Regions from separate parts of the Homo sapiens genome. Here region 1 is linked to region 2. The links come from fine-mapping of genetic effects on gene expression. A gene starts in region 2. The other region holds a variant in brackets. All regions are shown on one strand. Distances are between the middles of the regions.

The links.
Region 1: its variant is fine-mapped to the expression of HSPA12A in spleen (GTEx, PIP above 0.99).

What each region holds. Positions count from the first base shown.
Region 1 is chr10:116,782,347-116,791,502 of GRCh38, forward strand. It overlaps a transcript of HSPA12A not described here. Among named protein-coding and RNA genes, the nearest start is that of MIR9851, 41 kb to the right of the region's middle. RefSeq lists a silencer at 2,452-2,618. The variant T/C (reference allele first, on the strand shown) is at 4,886.
Region 2 is chr10:116,737,974-116,747,129 of GRCh38, forward strand. HSPA12A (heat shock protein family A (Hsp70) member 12A) reads right to left here and starts at 4,593. Exons shown (of 12, transcript NM_025015.3): 1 at 4,457-4,593. The coding sequence starts at 4,496. RefSeq lists enhancers at 4,458-5,162, 5,163-5,866 and a silencer at 4,458-4,907.

The sequences.
Region 1 (9,156 bases), 44 kb after region 2:
CACAGCAACCCCACTAGCATAGCCTAGTGCCTGTGCCCAAGCCTGCGTATATGACAAGGCTGATAGCAGCGCTTTTTGTAACAACCAAAATCGGGAGAGGGAGTTGTCCTTTGACTGAAGAATGGATAAATAAATTGTGGCATAGTCCCGGGTGGAACATTACCTAACATTGCAAAGGAATGAACTACAGGTACACCCAGCAACAAGGATGATGCTTAGAGTTGTAATGTGGAGCAAAAGAAAAAGCAAGTCACAAAAAAATGCCTCCTGTGTGACACTATTGTCATAAAAACCAAGCAAAACTAAACAGACTATTCAGGTAGGGCTCATAGACATGCTATCAACTGCTTTTTAAAAACAAGGGAATAAATGAGATGCTATTCAGGGTAGGGGCTGCCTGGTCAGGGAAGAGGACAGGATCACCAAGGCTTGTGCAAGTAGATTCACAGGTGCCAACAATGTTCTACGTCTTAAGCTGGGTGGTGGACTCTCAGTTTCAACAAAATCGCTGAGTAGACACTGAGACTGACTCCCAGGCCTGATGCCTGGCAACATACCAAGCCCAGGACACAGGGTCACCCTCACGGAGGGTACTGGAAGCCTTAGAAGTAACCTCAGAGAGGCAGAGAACATGGTGGGCCCCAAGGCGAAAGAAGGGAAATGACAAATGTCTCCTGCCACTCAGATGCCAGGTCTCTCCACAGCCTTTCCCACGTAATCCACACAGGCAATGTGTTAAACAGATACCAATCACGTCCAGCGCACAGATGGGCAAACTGAGGCTCTGAAAGACTAAGCTGTTTCTCCAGGAAGTGCCAATGGGAAGGGCTGGGGCTGAGACACCTCCAGTCCAGGTCCCTCTTTCCACACCATCGACGTGGTGCTGTGGGGATCAGGAGAGGCTTTGATGAGGAGGTGACGTTGGAGACATGTCTGGAAGAATTTGGAGGAGTCAGTGGCAGAGGAGCCTGGATGGCAGAAGGTGGCCTGTGCCCTGGCAAAGTGTGCAGCAGTATGGCTCGGGGCACAGTGAGTGGGAAGAGGGACAGAGCCTGACTCATGTGGCCCAGGGTCTGCCCACGATTATTGACTGTCAAGCACTGAATGAATGAGCGTGTGGGTGGACTTGGCTGGAGCACAGGCTGCACACGGACAAAGAGCTACAGCCGTCAACTGCAGCAGCTGCAACAGTCCTGACCCACCGTCCCCACCCCAGTCCACTCTCTCCCGCTAGCCAGGGTGAGTTTTGTAACACATAAACTGGGGCACATTCTTGCCCAGATCCAAATCCTCCAATGTTGTCTGTGATATAGTCTTAAGTGGGGGGAAAAAAGAGCAAGGAACAGAATGGTGTGTTAGTATACCACCATTTATGGGTATTTTTTGAGACAGAGTCTCACTCTCTTGCCCAGGCTGGAGTGCAATGGCTCACTGCAACCTCTGCCTCCCAGGTTCAAGCGATTCTCCTGCCTCAGCTTCCCGAGTAGCTGGGACTACAGGCATGTGCCACCACGCCCAGCTACTTTTTTGTATTTTTAGTAGAGACAGGGTTTCACCATGTTGGCCAGTACGGTCTTGAACTCTTGACCTCCAGTGATCCACCCACCTCAGCTTCCCAAAGTGCTAGGATTACAGGTATGAGCCACCATGCCCAGCCCATTTATGGTTTTTAAAATTACATAATTACATCTATTTTTTTCTTATGTATCCAAAAGATCTCACTGGAAGGACACATCAGGACCTGGTTGCAGTGTTGACCTCTTAGGGAACCAGATGGCTAAGTGGGACAGCCATGACTGGCCATGTGCTTGCCAATCCCATTTCCTCTTCCTGGACACACAAAAGTCACATTTCCCAGCTTCCCTTGTGGCTAGGCTGGGGCCTTGTGACTTGCTCTGGCCAATGGGCAGTGGCTGGGGTGATGCATGTCTCTCCAAGGCAGGCCGCTCCTGACCTAGGTGGCCCCTTGCCCTGCAAGTGGCAGCGCAGGGTCTTTGAGCACTTTCCAAAGTCCATTGCCTGATTTCTCTGTTCTGCAGAGCATTTTTCACATCCTGGTCACTTTCTCGTTTATTGGTTTATCTTCCTATTAGCGTGTAAGCTCCACTAGAGCAAGAAGTTCATCTGTCCTGTTCATTTCAGTAAGCCTAGCACTTAGAGTGGTACCTGGACTCTGTAGGTGCTCAATAAAGGTTTGTTGAGGGAATGAATGAATGAATGAATGGATGAGTGCAGGAATGAGTGAATGCCTTTAAGATTGGCTTATGATTGACATTTATGAAGTTGTCTGCCTAGCGTCCCTTTAGCAAGAGTTGCTCCTTCCCGTTCCCTCCACGTGTTGCCCTTGCAGTTGGGGACTTGTGCTTCCGGCCCCAGCTGACTGGCTGAGGAATGAGTCCCTGGCTGAGCTGGGTCAATGAATCCCTTCCCTGGGATCTTTGGACTAGATGGGATAAATAGAAATCAACATAGACAGAGCCTCTCCGTCTGGGGTTGAGCCTGTAACGCTAACCTCGGAGCTGTCAGTCTGGGCTGGAGATGCTGAGGGCACGTGTCTACAACAGCAGACAGGGAGGCAGCTGCTCCTAGGCAGGAGCCAACAGGAGAAACCAGAGAGGCCCCAGTCCTGCTGGTTCTAGGCCCTGCTGTGTTCCTCTTTTCTTGGCATCATGAAGCACCTCAGGCCCTAATAACAAGTTGAGGACCAACAAGAGGCTCTGGAGCTTGGATTCCAGAGGAGACATTTCCCAGCCTTTGGGAGGGGCGTCCTGGAAACCCTCATTGTGCCCTGCTCTGAGATGGCTTTGGGGCTTGACCCCTGCATGTCCACTCTCAGATTCCTTTCCTCCCCCTCCCACCCACCGCCACCATCATTCAAATGTCCAAAGCCTCAGGTAGTGGGAAGGAGGAGTATGAATTCTGGAACACAGGCAAGGACTGATGTCTTGTTCGGGAACGTTCTGGCCACCACAGCCTAGTGCTGCTGTGGAGGAAGGAGGAACGGCCCCGACCCAGGCCTGCCAGTGGACATGGCAGCCCGGGGACAGAGATCAAGATGTGGGAGCTGAGAGCAGTCCTGGCCACCAGCAGAGCATGGCATCAGGGCATTGTGACAGAAATGTTCTTGCCTGACCCCAGCCCCAGGACGGCTGTCCCCCACCCAGATCCCCGCCTGCCTCCCTGGTTCTCCCTCTAAGCCTCCACCTCAATGCAGGGGTCAGCAGGTGCCCACTCATAAAGCCCAGCTCACTCCCCAGCCTTGGGGGAACGCACACTCGGGCTCTGCTGCCCACCGCATGCTGCTGTTCATGATCCCTCTCTCTTCCTCTCGGACAGACACACACACACTACCCCAAATATCCACCTGCCCTCTGAGCACTGGCATCTGCTGTCACCCCCTCCCTCCCAGGGAATGGTCTCAGCCATCCACCGGTTATCCCAGCCAGAAGCCAGGCACCCACTTGACTCTGCCTTTCCCCGCTGAGCCCTCCTGCCCCACTGCCCTAATACCGCAAGATTCCTCCTATTTCCCCCCCTCCCCTCACCTTAGACTGCAGGCCCACCCCATGGCCTACTCAGACTCTGCCTGAGTGGTCTAGCATCCTCCCCTGCTTACATCTCTTTGTGGCCCTGGGAGACATCCCGACTCCTGCACCCGTCATGAGGCCTTTGCTGATCTAACGCCCACCTGTGCACTGGGAATCTTTGTAGCTTCATGAGGTTCACCTATGAGGTTAGCGCCAGAGAAGCCCCACGTGGAGCCTCTCGGGTAATTACGCAGGAGATGGAGCGGGTTCTGCAGAAGAGACTCTCAGCAAATCTCAGCAGTGGGGTTGCATGGAAGGCAGGGCTCCCAGGGGCTGAGACACAGTGGTAAATACTTCTTAAAATAGACTGTTTATGTTATGGATCAAACTGAATTCCTAAGTTTAACTATATTTTTGGTAATTTGGTGGGGAAACAGGCTGCGCAGAACAACTCCGCCTTGCCCCTAGCCTGGGCTCAGGACTCTAGGGAGGTCTAGGGAGCAGCTCCAGGGCCTATGGCCCCTCAGGTAGAGGCACAGGTGCGTGTGTGCACATTTTCCTGAAAAAAAAAGAAAAAAAAGATCTAGTGCTTTTGTCAGAATCTCAAAGGGATCCATGATCTAAGAAATGTCTAAAGCATTGTTCTCACAGAAAAATGTTCGTTCTCATTTATAATTCAAGAAATGTACATTTAAATGGTATATTTTTCTCATCTGTCTCAGTGGCGTTCATCTGTAGCTGCCTATTAGAATCTCCTGGGGAATTATTTATTTATTTATTTATTGAGACAGAGTCTGGCTCTGTCACCCAGGCTGAAGTGCAGTGGCTCAATCTTGGCTCGCTGCAACCTCTGCCTCCCAGGTTCAAGCAATTCTCATGCCTCAGCCTCCTGAGTAGCTGGGATTACAGGTGCCCACCACCACGTCCAGCTAATTTTTGTATTTTTAGTAGAGACAGAGTTTTGCCATGTTGGCCAGACTGGTCTCGAACTCCTGACCTCAGGTGATCCACCTGCGTCAGCCTCTCATAGTGCTGGGATTACAGGTAGGAGCCACTGCACCCAGCCTCCTGGGGACATGTTTTAAGTGCCAATGCCCAATCACCTCCCGGACACACACACACACACACACACACATACACACACGCACGCACTCACACACACACGGTCAGATTCTGCTTTAATTGGTCTGGGATACTGTCGTGTTGGCATATTTAGAAAGCTCCCCAGGTCATTCTGACTGCAGTCAAGATTGAGAACCAGCAACCTGTCAGATCAACCAAGGGCAAAAACGTCCATGGGATCTCATGCATTCTGGGTGGGAGTGCGGCCTGGTTTAAAAGTCCTTTGCAGAGCAATC[T/C]GGAAATACCAAAGCTAGAAGGGCCTCTACCCTCTGACCAGCAATTCCACTCTTAATAATTTAGTCAACAGCAGCTCTTGCATTGGTGCTTAAAGCTGTGTATAGAGGATATTTACTGCCCACTGCTCCTAATAAGCACAAGATTGGAAAGTGCCCAAATGTCAAATCAAGCATGTCACATCCACATACTAGAATACTCTCTAGCCAGCAAAAAAAAAAAAAAAAAAAAAAACCACAGGCGCCTTCTGTGAAGTGATGTGGGAGGCTTTCAGCGTCATTGCTAAATGCAAACGAGAAACTGAGTGGAGGGTGTGGTTTTGAACGTACAGGCGTCTGTATTTTTATATGCATCTAGAATTTCTGGAAGGATATACTTTTCCAAAACCTCTTAACAATTATGGCCTTTGGGGAAGAAGTGGGGCTAGGGTGGGAGGCGGGGAGCTTAGTTTTCACTTGCTTCCCCCTTTTGTGTTGTTTGAATTGTTATTATTAATATGCACTGCTTTTTCCAAAAACTTCAGAAGGTGAAAAGAAGAGGAAAGAAGGGAAGAGAGTGCCTGGCAGCCGCTTGGCACAAGGACTAAGAAGTGGAGTGCCTGGTCATGGAGGGGTGCGAGTGAAGCCTCCAAACTGGCTTCAGCGTGGGGGCACCCTAAATCCCCTGGAATCAGGTCAGACTCTGAAGGTAGGAGTCTGCTTGGTCTATGGTGGAAGTTGGGGACAGTGACTTGGCCTGAGGGTCGGGGATAGGAGGGCTTCCAGGACGGCAGGGCGGGAGCTCTGCAAGCCAATCCCTCCCTCGTGCCACCTCCACGCAACGCCGTTAAATTCAGATGCTACGCTAAAAGCAGAGGAAGGAAAAATATCTGTGTCACAGCACCAACTGGAAACCAACGCGCGTACATCCTGTCTCTACTCTGGCCGAGCCGACCAAAGCACATCCTGCAAAATTCTAGACCCCCGCAAACGGCGGGAGGCGGCCGTGCGCACAACATCCTGCAAACGCCGCCCTCTGGTGGTGGAGCTGGTGAACTGCGCCCAGGTCCATAGGCGGGCCCACGCTTGAGTGTTCCAAACGGGAGAAGAAAAAAGTACCATTTAATACCGAAGCGAAAACAAGTACTCAGTAAGAAAAGCACAGATGCAAACGCAAAATTCATATTTTAAATATAGTTCGCAAACTGGTTCCCAACTAACTCTTCTCCCAAAATACAATAGCTTGTTTCTCCCCTTGCAAAATACATATTCTCATTCTAAAAAAACAATAATGAAAAGCACTAGGAAAAAGAGACACCTACAGTCACCAGGCTGTGATCTGTAGCTCTTGCTAGCATTTTGGTGAGTATCCTTCCAGACTCTATCAACACATACACAGAGATACATGCAAATGGATAGCAATGGGACTGTGCAACACACCCAATTTTGTAGCCTGATTTTTTTCTCTTAATTATATATTGTGGGTATCTGCACAATAATACATGCTACATCATCATTTTTAATATTTTCAATTGAAAAAGTTATACGTGTGAAAATATACCCACAGATAAACTCACATAAATGAGAGAAACTATCTATTAATAGCAAACTTGCTGAGTCAATTATGATATATCCATCTGGTAGAATTCTACGCAGCTATTTTTTTTTTTTTTTTTGAGACAGAGTTTTGCTCTGTCACCCAGGCTGGAGTGCAGTGGCAAGATCTCAGCTCACTGCAACCTCTACCTCCCGGGTTCAAGCAGTTCTCCCTGCCTCGGCCTCCTAGTAGCTGGGTCTATAGGCACCTGCCACAACGCCCAGCTGATTTTTGTATTTTTAGTGGAGACAAGGTTTCACCATGTTGGCCAGGCTGCTCTCGAACTCCTGACTTCAGGTGATCCACCCACCTTGGCCTCACAAAGTGCTGGGATTACAGGTGTGAGCCACCGCACCCAGCCACTATGCAGCTATTAATCTAATGCACTGGTGCTGCAATATGTCAAAGATATATCACATCGCAAAATAAAATTACATTACAAAATAATACGTATAGAAGTATCCTATTTTAGCTTACAAAAATATATTTATATACATATACCATTATATATGTATTGATATATAGACATATATAGATATATATGTATATGCCTGTGTCTGAGAAGAAAATGTTTCTTGAAGGATACTCCAGAAACTCTCTTAGGAAATAAGACTGGGAAATGAAGGATGAGTATAAGTTGTAGCTTTTACTTTCTCTCCCCTTATAAGATTTTTTAAAAATATTATCCTCTCGATGATAGAATTCTGAATCCTGAATGTGCTATGACTTAGCTGAATAATGCCCTGTTGGTGAACACTCAAGCTGCTTATACTTTTTCTGCCAGGAACAAAGCTACAGTGGTACCTTGGATGTAGTCACTGTGCACTTGTCTGATTATTCCTGCTGAGTAAATTCCTAGGCATGGAATTGAGGGTTCGTTTTTAAGGTGCATCATCCAGGATATTGACTATCAACACGTCGTAGAGTGAAGCTGACGTGACTGTTCAGTGCCCGTTTGCATTTCTGAAGGGCCTAATGTCTGCTTCTAGGTGAGGAGGGCATTATCTCTGGCCATGCTTCATATCCCTGGAAGCTCTCTCCAGACTACGGGTCAGGTTCACCGGATGCCCAGACGTCCCTCTTAAGGTCTTGCTTCCATTTATGGCTGCACCTCCACACCCACTGTCATCCTCACCCACCTCTGTCTATTCCCTCCACAGCAGCCAGTGAGAGCCTTCACCAGACCCTGCCCACGCTCCATCAGTAGCTTTGCTGCACACTGGAAATCAATCCAAGGTCCTCCCATGGCCCAGGAATCCCTGCATGGTATGGACCCTGATAATCTTTCTTTTTTTTTTTTTTTTTTTTTTTTTTTGAGACAGAGTCTCGCTCTGTCGCCCAGGCCGGACTGCAGTGGCGGGATCTCGGCTCACTGCAGGCTCCGCGCCCTGGGGGTTCACGCCATTCTCCTGCCTCAGCCTCCCAAGTAACTGGGACTACAGGCGCCCGCCACCTCACCCGGCTAATTTTTTGTATTTTTAGTAAAGACGGGGTTTCACCGTGTTAGCCAGGATGGTCTCTATCTCCTGACCTCGTGATCCGCCTGCCTCAGCCTCCCAAAGTGCTGGGATTACAGGTGTAAGCCACCACGCCCAGCCCCCTGATGACCTTTCTAACCTCACGTCTCCCTCCTCTTCCTGCCCTCAGCCCACTCATGCTGCACACTGGCCACCTTGCTGTTCCTGACGCTCCCCGAACATCCAGCCCCAGGGCCTTTGCACTTGCTGTTCCCTTTGCCTGGAATACTGATCCTCTACTCACAAGCCTCTTTCCCTGGCTTCATTCACAGCCCAGCTCAAATATTTCCTCCTTAGAGAAGCCTTCTGGCCCACCCTGCCTTAAAGGACACTCTCCATTCCCAGACCCCATCTCATTGTCTAGTTATCATTTTTTATTTTTTTATTGAGACAGAGTCTCACTCCGTCGCCCAGGCTGGAGTGCAGTGGCATGATCTTGGCTCACTGCAACCTTTGCCTCCCAGGTTCAAGCGATTCTCCTGTCTCAGCCTCCCAAGTAGCTGGAACTACAGGAGCGCACCACCACACACACCTAATTTTTGTATTTTTAGTAGAGACAGGGTTTCACCATGTTAGCCATGCTGGTCTCGAACTCCTGACCTCAAGTGATCCGCCCGCCTTGGCCTCCCAATGTGCTGGGATTAGAGGCATGAGCCACTGCACCTGGCCCGTCCAGTTATCTTTGTATTCATAGCCCTGGGATTGCATTCTAAATCTACGTGTTTATTTGCCTTTGATATTCTGCTTTCACTGAGTTACAAGCTGCACAGGAGCAGGAGACTGTCTGGCTAGTGCTGTGTCCCCAACACCCAGGACAGGCCTGGAATGTGCAGGCCCTCCCTCCACAAGTGTGTGCTGCTTGGATGAAGGAGAAGCTATTAACACAAGGATGTCTGAAGCTTGAAGAGCCTAGATAGGCCATTTCTCCCAACTGCTCCCAAAGGAGGTCAGATGTGTTTAAAGCATCTTTTCCATAGATGAAGCTTTATCAAGAAAATCTGACAGAACCTTTTCAATGCAACCATTTGGGAGAAAAATTGCAAATAGGTTATTATTCAGGAAAAATACCTTTCCTCCAAACCAGAGCAGCACATCCACCCAACATACTGGCTCCTTTAGAGAAAAGCAGAAAGGTTAATATCGCCCCGTCAGAGTAAAGCAGCCAATTAGTGCAATTGCAA
Region 2 (9,156 bases):
CCCGCAGTGGCAGGCGCTCACTCATTCCCTGCCACACGCTGCTCATTCATTAAAAGCCCCTGATTCCTCCCCGCTGTTCTAATTATGCACAGCAGTAATAAAGATGCTTTCTCCCTTACCAAAGAGGCCTATTTATATGAAAAGAGAGCATTTCGCCCCCACAAGATTGAGTCGTCACTCCAGGCCTTATTGGAATCAAAGCAGCTTCTCTTCTGAGATTGTCCAAGCCCTGCCTGACTCCCCTCCAGCTTGGCCCACTCCTGAGCATCCACATTTCCAGGAGCACCACTGCGGAGTGGGCAAGATGTAGACGCCATTGCCCTCTGCTGTGTTCCCTCATGTCTTGCTGACTGACACTCAACAAAAAGTAAGACATTTATTGAACACCTACTAGTGTCCTTAGTAAAAAAAAATGGAAATGAAAGACATAGTCCACGCCTTTCTCGGAAGAAAGAGCATTGAGAGAAACAGCACAAGATTTTAGGCTCCATGGCTGACTCATATCCCAACTCCAGCATTCACTGGTTGGGCAAGTTAGCAAGTTTTTCAAAGCCCTCAATTGCCTTATCAGCAAAATGGGGTAATAATAATGCCAGCCTCACAGGGTTGCTGGAGGAGTCAATGAGATACAGGCATACAAAGCTGGCATATCGTAGGGCCTCAACAAACACTAGTTGGAATTATCAACCATTAAGTACCGAAGGCTTTGGGACCACACAGGCAGATCTCATCCCGATGGATGAGCCCAGGAAGGCTTCCTGAGAGGTGATACCTTAACTGAGTTTTGAAGGATGAGTAGGACCTTGCTAAACAAAGAGAGGATGTCCCAAGCAGGGAGGACTGCATGTGTCCAGGGCCAAAGGCGATCACAAGGCTCTGGGAAACACAAGACACTGTGTAGGGACATACACAGAAGGCATGGGAGGACCACCAAGGCGGCAGACAAGTTGCAGCAGCAGATGTTGACACGGAAGTGGATCCCATAGCCAGAACCCTAACCTGCAATGCCCAGAGCATCACCCTGACCTTTGCTTACTTCCTTTGGGGGCTATAACCAGCGCCCTGTCACTACCATCTACAGCTTGGTGGCTGAAGGAAGTAGGGCAGCCACTCTCTATTAGCCGCAGGCCTACTCAACACAAGTCCCTGAGGGCCTATGACATGCCAGGCACATGCCAGGAGAGGCTGTTCAGCTTGACCACCTGGGGCCTGCATCCCATGGCCTAGGTCCTTACCTAGGCCCCCTTCCAGCTGTGCGCTGCTAGGACTGTCAGCTTTTTCCTCTGTGAAATGGGGATCACAGGGCGTCCTTCATAGTCATTCATTCAACAACAAACGTGGTCAGGGCTAAATGAGATAACTCAATATTCCCAGGTTTCAGCACACACTAAGTCCTCAATAAAAGTGAACGTTTAAAATGTTTATTTTTATTAAGATGAACCTCCAGGATGGCATCTCCAAAGCCCAATGCCAGGCCTCGAGAGATACCCTCAACCCAGGCAAAACTGCCTGCCCACCATCCCTCTCCTCAAGCCCGTGCCCTGGAAAAAATGACTTGGTTTCCACTCTTCATGTCTAGCCCTGACTTGGTCACCATAGGAGCCATCCCTGTCCGAACCACTCTGTCCACCCCCAATTCATCTCACCCTTCTAGGGCTCCATGTGTCAACCCACTCAGGTCATGCGGGAGGGGGCAGGATTGAAGGTCATCTCAAATTTTGCTGTCCAACACCCAGACCCTCAAGTGTGGCCCTTCAGATTTTGTAAATTAAGTAATTTAAACATCTTATTAAGAAAATTTGCAAACATACACAAAGTAAGCAGAATAGTAATGAACCGCCGCTCCCCATCACCCAACTACCACATTTTGCCATTCTTGTTTCATTGGCACGCACCTCTGCCCACTCCCCACCCCACCCCAACTGCACTTGTTGGAGAAGATTTCATGGCCAGCCTTTCTGACACCACCCCCCAACACCACCTACCCACCAGCAAACCCCTCCCCAACCCAGGACTGCCACTGCTCACAAATTCCAACAGTGTGATATTTGTGGCACCCATCCTTTTGTACCAAAAACATTCTGGAAATCCTTCCCAGGAAGCACAACCATTTTTTTATGTCCTTAATAGAGTGGTAACCACTGCACACATGCATAAGGGCTGTATGCACAGGTTGGTGCCCTGGAATCAGATGGCCTGGGTCCCAAACAACACTTCCCAGATGTGTGACCTTGGATAGGTCACTCAACCTGTGTTTGGATTTCCCACCCAGGAAGGGGAGAATGCTGGTAACAGGTTTGTTGTGAGCCTTTAAAACAATAAAATAATGCACGCTCTTTTCCCAGCAATGAGGAAACCTTAGAAATAAGTGTAGGGGCCAGGGGCAAGCCAACTCTGCTCCTATGCAATACTATTCACATCCTCCATTTTACAGATAAAGGGAGAGGTGCCCAGAGGCACAGTGAGCTGCCAGGGACAGCCCGCTCTTCAGGTTGGTCTCTGTCCTAAGTCCATGCACCTGGAATTCTCACTGGCCACCTTGAGCTGGAGATGACTGGAAGTGAAGAAACAAATACTCCAGAACAAACGCAGAAGAGCGGTGGCAGGTGGCTCGGCACACCAGGTATGGGTGTCCCCATCCTGGACAGGATTTCTCCCAGCACCGTGTGTGTGTGTGTGTGTGTGTGTGTGTGTGTGTGTGTCTGTGTGTGTGTGTGTGTGTGCGTGTGTGTGTGTGTTAGGATAGGGGTGCTGAATTTGATTTACAAGACAAAACAGTGTTGGGAAAGGTGTGGGGAGTGGGTACACATTCCTGCCCACTTCTGATTTGACAAATCCTATGCCCAACCTTGTATTTGGTATCATCGCCCACCCTATCCCAGCATGAGAGGCAAGAAACTGGCTCAGTAATTCTCAGGCTTTAGCAATTCAACGCCCCTACTTATCGTCCTAAAAATTTTTTTATTTTCTGACTTAAAGGAAAAAAGTAAAAAAAAAAAAAAAAAAAAAAAAAAGAGTCAATCCAGTTGCTGAGTGATGTTCAGACAAAGACAGCTGCCAGTCCATTGCCTGCGTTCACCAGCTGAGGAAGAGTACAGGCGGGGACTGGGTGTGTGTTTGGGGACGGCCTGGGCTCTCCGCTGCCTCTCCCTGGAGTGAGCCCTGTCAGGATCCCCCACCCGCCACCCTGCACTCCCCCACCACTGCAGTGCCGCGTGGGGAGGCACCTCCCTGATCCGCAGGAACAATGGGCTGGGGTGGGGGCAGGTGCGGCTTGGAGTGCAGCAGAGGGTGGGGGCCGCAGGCCCGACAGCAAGACAGGGAACCCAGCGCAGATGGTGGCTGTGCTGCCACTGGACTCAGTTTCTCCAGCTTTTGGGGCCCCGCAGAGCCAAGCGCTCGTTTCGTGGCTGAATCTCCCTTGCGTCCCGGCATTTTAATATCATCCTCGCAGGCGGCTTGCCTGTCGCTCCCGGGAAAGATGCCTGGGCCGCGCTCCTCTCCCCGGCGGCCGCTCTCGCCGAGGCCCTGCAGGTCAGGGACGCGCGGCGCCTCCATGCGCCCAACTTTCCCCACTTGGGACCCACAGGAAGACTGGAATCCTGGCCAGCCGGGCCCTCCGTGGGAGAAGCCTTGATTTACAGCCCTGGGCTCCGAAACCTGCTCGTCCTCTTCCCGCAACCCCCTTCCCCGTCCTCTCCGGCTCCCCCACCCTTCGGAGCCCTAATCACGCTCCCCAAAGAAAGCGGCCCTAGCACATCTGCAAAATGCGAGCGTCTGTCCTCCGCACTGGGTGCCTCCCCCTGCCCCCCGCAAGGAAGGGACCATCGAACCCCCGCCGCTTCACCCTTCCCCAGCCCAGTGAGTCCCTGGGGATGGGCGGGGAGGTGGGTGAGAAGCCCTTCGGCCGCAGCTGCAGCCCCCACTCCTGGCTCGAGCGTCCGGCCGGGGTGGGATGGGGCGAGGGAACAGGTCCAAATCTCCGATTTCCCCCAGGCTCCCACTCCTGCCTCGCTGAGTCACGAAAATTACCCGCTGGGGCCACCCGGCCACCCGGCGGCGGGCCCTTTACCCAGCCAGCGCCGGCCTCCGCAGCCCATCGCGCGGGGGCTGCACACGCGGGGCGGTCCTCACCCGCACGCGCGACCAGCCCCGCAGGAGGCGCCACCCGAGGCAGGGACCAACCAGGCGCCTCAGCGGGGGCTGCAGTCCCCGCCGCGGAGTCCGCACCCTGGCGGGGCGCAGAACATGTGACCCGCGGGCCGTCTCCGGTCCACCGGACCCCGGCCCCCGGCCCCGCTGCTGCTGACCCCGGCCCCGCCCGCCAGAACTGGATGCAGCGCGGGCGTCCCCACTTTTCCACGGCGCGCGAGGGGGTGCGGAGCGTTGGGCCAAGCGCGCCTCCTCCCTCCCTGCCCCGCCAGCCGCGGCCGCAGGACCCGCAGCCTGCGCTCACCTCGGGGCCCGTCGCTGCCGCCGGCCTCCTTGTCCGCCATGGTCGCGCAGCCCCGGACCGCGAGGGGAGCCTCCAGCGCAGCGCCCGTGCCCGTGCGGGTCTCTGTCCGCGTCCGCGGCGGCGCTCGGGCCGTGTCTGAGCCGCCGGGCAGCGGGAGCGCTGCTCTGACGCGGCAGCCGCCGCAGCCACGGCTCCTCCCCGGGCCCCGCCCCGGCCCGCCCGGCGCCCCGCCCCTCCGAGCTCGGGCCGGCCGGGAAAGGTCGGGGAAGGCGGGCGCGGGGAACTGCCTGGCTCCGGAGCTGCGCTCCCCGCCCGCCCAGAGCGGCCCGCCGAGGCCCGGCCTCTCCTCTCCCGGCTTCGGGACCGAGCGGTCGCCCCGCAGTCGACCGCGGCGGGGGTAGTGGCGCGCCCGGGGCTGCGCTGCGGGAGCGGATTTCAGGCCCTCGGGGCCCCGCGGCGCGTCCCCTCTTTGGAAGTCACCGAATGGCCAGGCCTGGAGCCCTTCAGCAAGCCCAGCGCGCCCGGCGCTCTCCCGAGGACGCCCGCGCCAGTCCCCACCAGCTTCTGTCTGTCCCCCAGGGTCCCAGGGGAGCGGCCCTGGGCCGGCGCAAAGGCGGGCTGGGTGGACCCCGGCGCGGGCAGGACCCAGGCCGCAGACCAAGGACCTGCGCGGGGGCCGAGCCCGGGGCACCGCCTCCAGGCCGCCTGCGGGACTCCATGGCAACTCCGGACCCAGGGAGGTGCTTGCCCCGGAGGCTGAGTCGCGCCTTCCATATATGGGATCCAGCTGGGCCCTCCTTAGAAGTCTGAGAATAACGATATTAATAATGCAAGGCTTCAGTTGTGAATGATTCATACTCCCTGTCCCCAGCTCCTCCACACACACGCGCCGCTGGCACCTGTTTGGGCCTGGCCAGGCACCCCCTGGGTCCGCGGTGTCACCACCCTGCCTTGGCAAACGAGGGCAGTAATAGGAATCCGAGGAGCACCGTCACTGGGTCGTTTCCGGGTGCCTGGCACTGTGCTACCTGCCTGGTGCTTTACCTCTATCTCCTTTCCTCCCCATAACTAACATTTTGCAGATAAGGAAGCTGAGGATCGGCAGGGTTACAATATCACACCCAGCAGGTGAGTCGCGGAGCTGGGATTCCCACCCAGCTGTAACCACCAGCATCCCTCACTTCCAGAGATGGGTGGCATTTCCCAAAGATCACCTAGGGGAGGCTTCATCGTACAATCCCGTTCTGGATGACGGAGTGGGCAGAGAGCTGCTGCGAGAGCGTTATGGATGACGGAATGGGCAGAGAGCTGCTGCGAGAGCCTGGAGACCAGAAGGTGATGGCAGAGTGACAAGTTCAAAACACAAAACTTGTCTTCTGTCTGCCTGCATTAAAAATCCCAAATGGACAGTTCCTGGCTGTGCATGAAACCACAGTCAAGTTATTTAACCTATCTGAGCCTCAATATTCTCATCTGCGAAATGGGTATAACAGGAGAACCCACTTCATAAAACTGAAGATTAGATAGACTATGCATGTAACATGCTTAGCTTGGGATCTAGCACATGGTAAAAATCATTAAGTCACTGATGGCCCCCGAGGGCCCTTCCTGCCTACGTGCCTGCGACAGCCTGCCCACAGCTCCCCCGCCCTCCTGTCTCACCCCTTCAGTCCATGCTTTGTGATCTGGTCTGTCCCCACCCTACTCCAGCTCCAGCTACAGCCGCTCTGATTCTTCAATCCCTCTCACCCACCCCTGCTTCTCTTATGCTGGTATTTCAAAGACATGAAAATGTGCTTGATGCCTGGATCACCCGTCCTCTCATTTCACCACCACCAGCAACCTAAGAACTTCTCCTTCTCATCATGGACTGCCCAACTCCAGGAAGGCTCCCCTGCATACCCATGCTGGCCAGGGGGGCCCTCCTCAGTGTCCTCAAGGCACTCGTTCCTCCCCATCAGACCAGGGCATCAGGACATTGGCCTTGACAGCCTGTCAGAAGCAGCAGAAACCCGTAGCCCCTGCACATCTGCCTCCTGCTGTGGAAGGGCCTTGGGCGCCACGTGCCCTCATGGGACTCCCAGCCACAGTGACATGAGGGTGCGTGAGAAGGATGGGAGGTGACATGCAGGCCCCAGTGCTGGGGGCAGAGAGCAGAACACTTTTGATTTGCAGGGGAGCATGAAAGGCAGCGCACACTCTGCCTGGGATTTGCCCTCACGGCCTTCATGCTCATCACACTAATTACAACGCGCCCTGCTGAGCACACCATCCAGCCCGCCAGCGAGGGGCTGTTGTGGTCTCACCTAGTTCTCATGGTGGCCCTTGCGGTTTTGCAGGAGAGGAAAAGGAAGCATTCAAAGGCTGAGGCACCTGTTCAGGCATCCTCTGGCCATCAGCAGCAAGGCTGGGGTTCAAGGCTCAGCACGCCACATCAAGGAAGGGTTCCCACCTTCCTCCCTGGAGTCTTCTTCCCCAATAGCAGCCAGAGAGAGAGCATGTCATTCTCCTGCTACCAGGTCCTACACAAATTGGCCTCCTGATGCCTCAGTGACCTCAGCTCCTTCCACTCTCCCATTCCCCCCAAAGCCCAAACACACACAGGCCCCACCTGGGGGGTCACTCCCCCGGACACATCCTTCAAGAGAATCAATCACGTGGCTTGCTCCTCCCAGAACACTCTATCTAAAACTGCTGCCTCGCCCCCACTGGGAAGTAAGTCCCAGGAGAGCAAGATCGTGGACTGTGTTGCCAGTTCTGCATCTCTGTGTCTAGAACAGCGCCTGGTACATGGCAGGCACTTAATAAATCCTTGATGCTTGACTGGCTGAATCAGTAAGTGAAGCGGGAACACAGCCCAGCACACAGACATTCTGCTGACCCCCAGGGCTCATGCCTTTCCACAGCCCCAGCTGTCTCAGGGCACGCCCAGACTCCTGGGAGGTTGCTCTGTACCAAGTTCCCTCAAGCTCCCCTCCAAAGACTCCTCCTCACAGTGCTCTCTGTGGGTACACTGCAGCACCCTCTATACCATCTCTTCTCCACCCTCCACACCCTCCACAGGCTGTAGACTGTGGTAGCTGGTGGAGAGAATGTTACACATCTCGGTTGGATACTCAAGTCCTAAAAAGTGGCCCAGCCCAGAGCCAAGTGACCACCTTCTAGTTCCCTTCCTGCTGGTCACTCCAGCTTCAAGGGCCTGCCCTCAGGTCCCCAAAGAGCCAGTGCCTCCACTGGAAGCCGATTCTCCTCTAGTTTTGCCAGGTAACCAACCCTGTCTCTTCCTACAGGCCTCAGCTTGGATGGCACTTCCTCCAGGACACCACCTAGCCCTCCAAGATCACATGAGGCCCCTCCTCTCTCCTCTGTGCCCAACCCCCCATCACTCCTATCTTAGCACTTATCACAACAACTCCAAGGTCAGTAGTATTGTTAACCCCATTGTACAGATGACCAAACTGAGATACAGAAAGGTCACTGAGCTCAGAAGCTGCAGTGCTGAGACTAGACCTCTGAGACCAGAACTCAGGTCTCTCCAGCTTCAGGTCACCCACCTCCCCCTCTAGCTGCCAGCTCTCCAAAGTGGGACCAGCCATGTCCACATTTAGAGCCCCCAGACCCTAGGATGGTGCCTGGCGCAGAGAGCAAAACATTGATGGAAAACAGCCTCCTCAGCTTCAGGCCTTTCTCATCCTCTCCGGGATCCCGTTCACCCACAGCCCCACACACGCTTCCCTGCCAACAGACTCCCTCTCTGCTCTTCAGCCCCCAAACAAACCCCCACCACATCCATTCATGCAAATAGAAGTCAGAGTCCAGAGGCAGGCCCAGCTAACTGCACCAGACAGCCAGGGCACTCTGTCACCTGCTATAACTACCAACTGTGGAAAGGGCTGGACATGATGCACAGCATGGGTAGGGGAGGCAGCTGAGTCCTCTGGCCCCCAGCTCAGAAGAAACTGAGGATAATTGTTGATGGACCAGATGCTAAGGGCAGTGAGCCCTGGGGGATGCATCAGGACCAAGAATGAGAAAAGTACAACAGGAGGAAGCAGAGAGCATGGGGTCAGCTGGACCAGGGCTCAAGTGGGCTCAGCTGCTCCCTGCCCACCTCAGGGGACCTGGGACATACCTCTCTGGGTCTGTTTCCTCACCTGTCAAAAGGGCCCAGTAATGATAGGTATCATAATTATAAGAGATCATATATGTAAAACATTCCATTTAGAGTCAGCCTATATATGCCACTGTTAATATGACTTATTTAATTTATATATTTGAACACAAAAATGCCATTTCCTTGTATATTATAAATTACAGAATGGATCCAGGCAAGATTTTCTTGGCTGATAAAGACACACAGAAGATATGAGTAGCTTTTTCCATTTTAATTTTTCTTTTATGTTTTTGTTAAGCTTAAGAAACACTGATATGAGTTCATATCTGAACTTTGACATAGGACACTGCCCGTCAAAGCTGCTTTGGACTTTAGGATATGCCAGCGGAACGTTGTCCATGAACTGAATATCATAAAAGAGACTAATTCATAACAGGACCAAGATTCAGATTTGCTAAAGCAACATAAAAACTTGCAGAGAAAACCTGGGCAAATGTCAGCCGCCTTGACCTCCAACTGTCAGTGCATTTTAAAAAGCCAGCCTTACAGCTGAATCATGGTGGCCAGTGTATACATCCTCCCCACC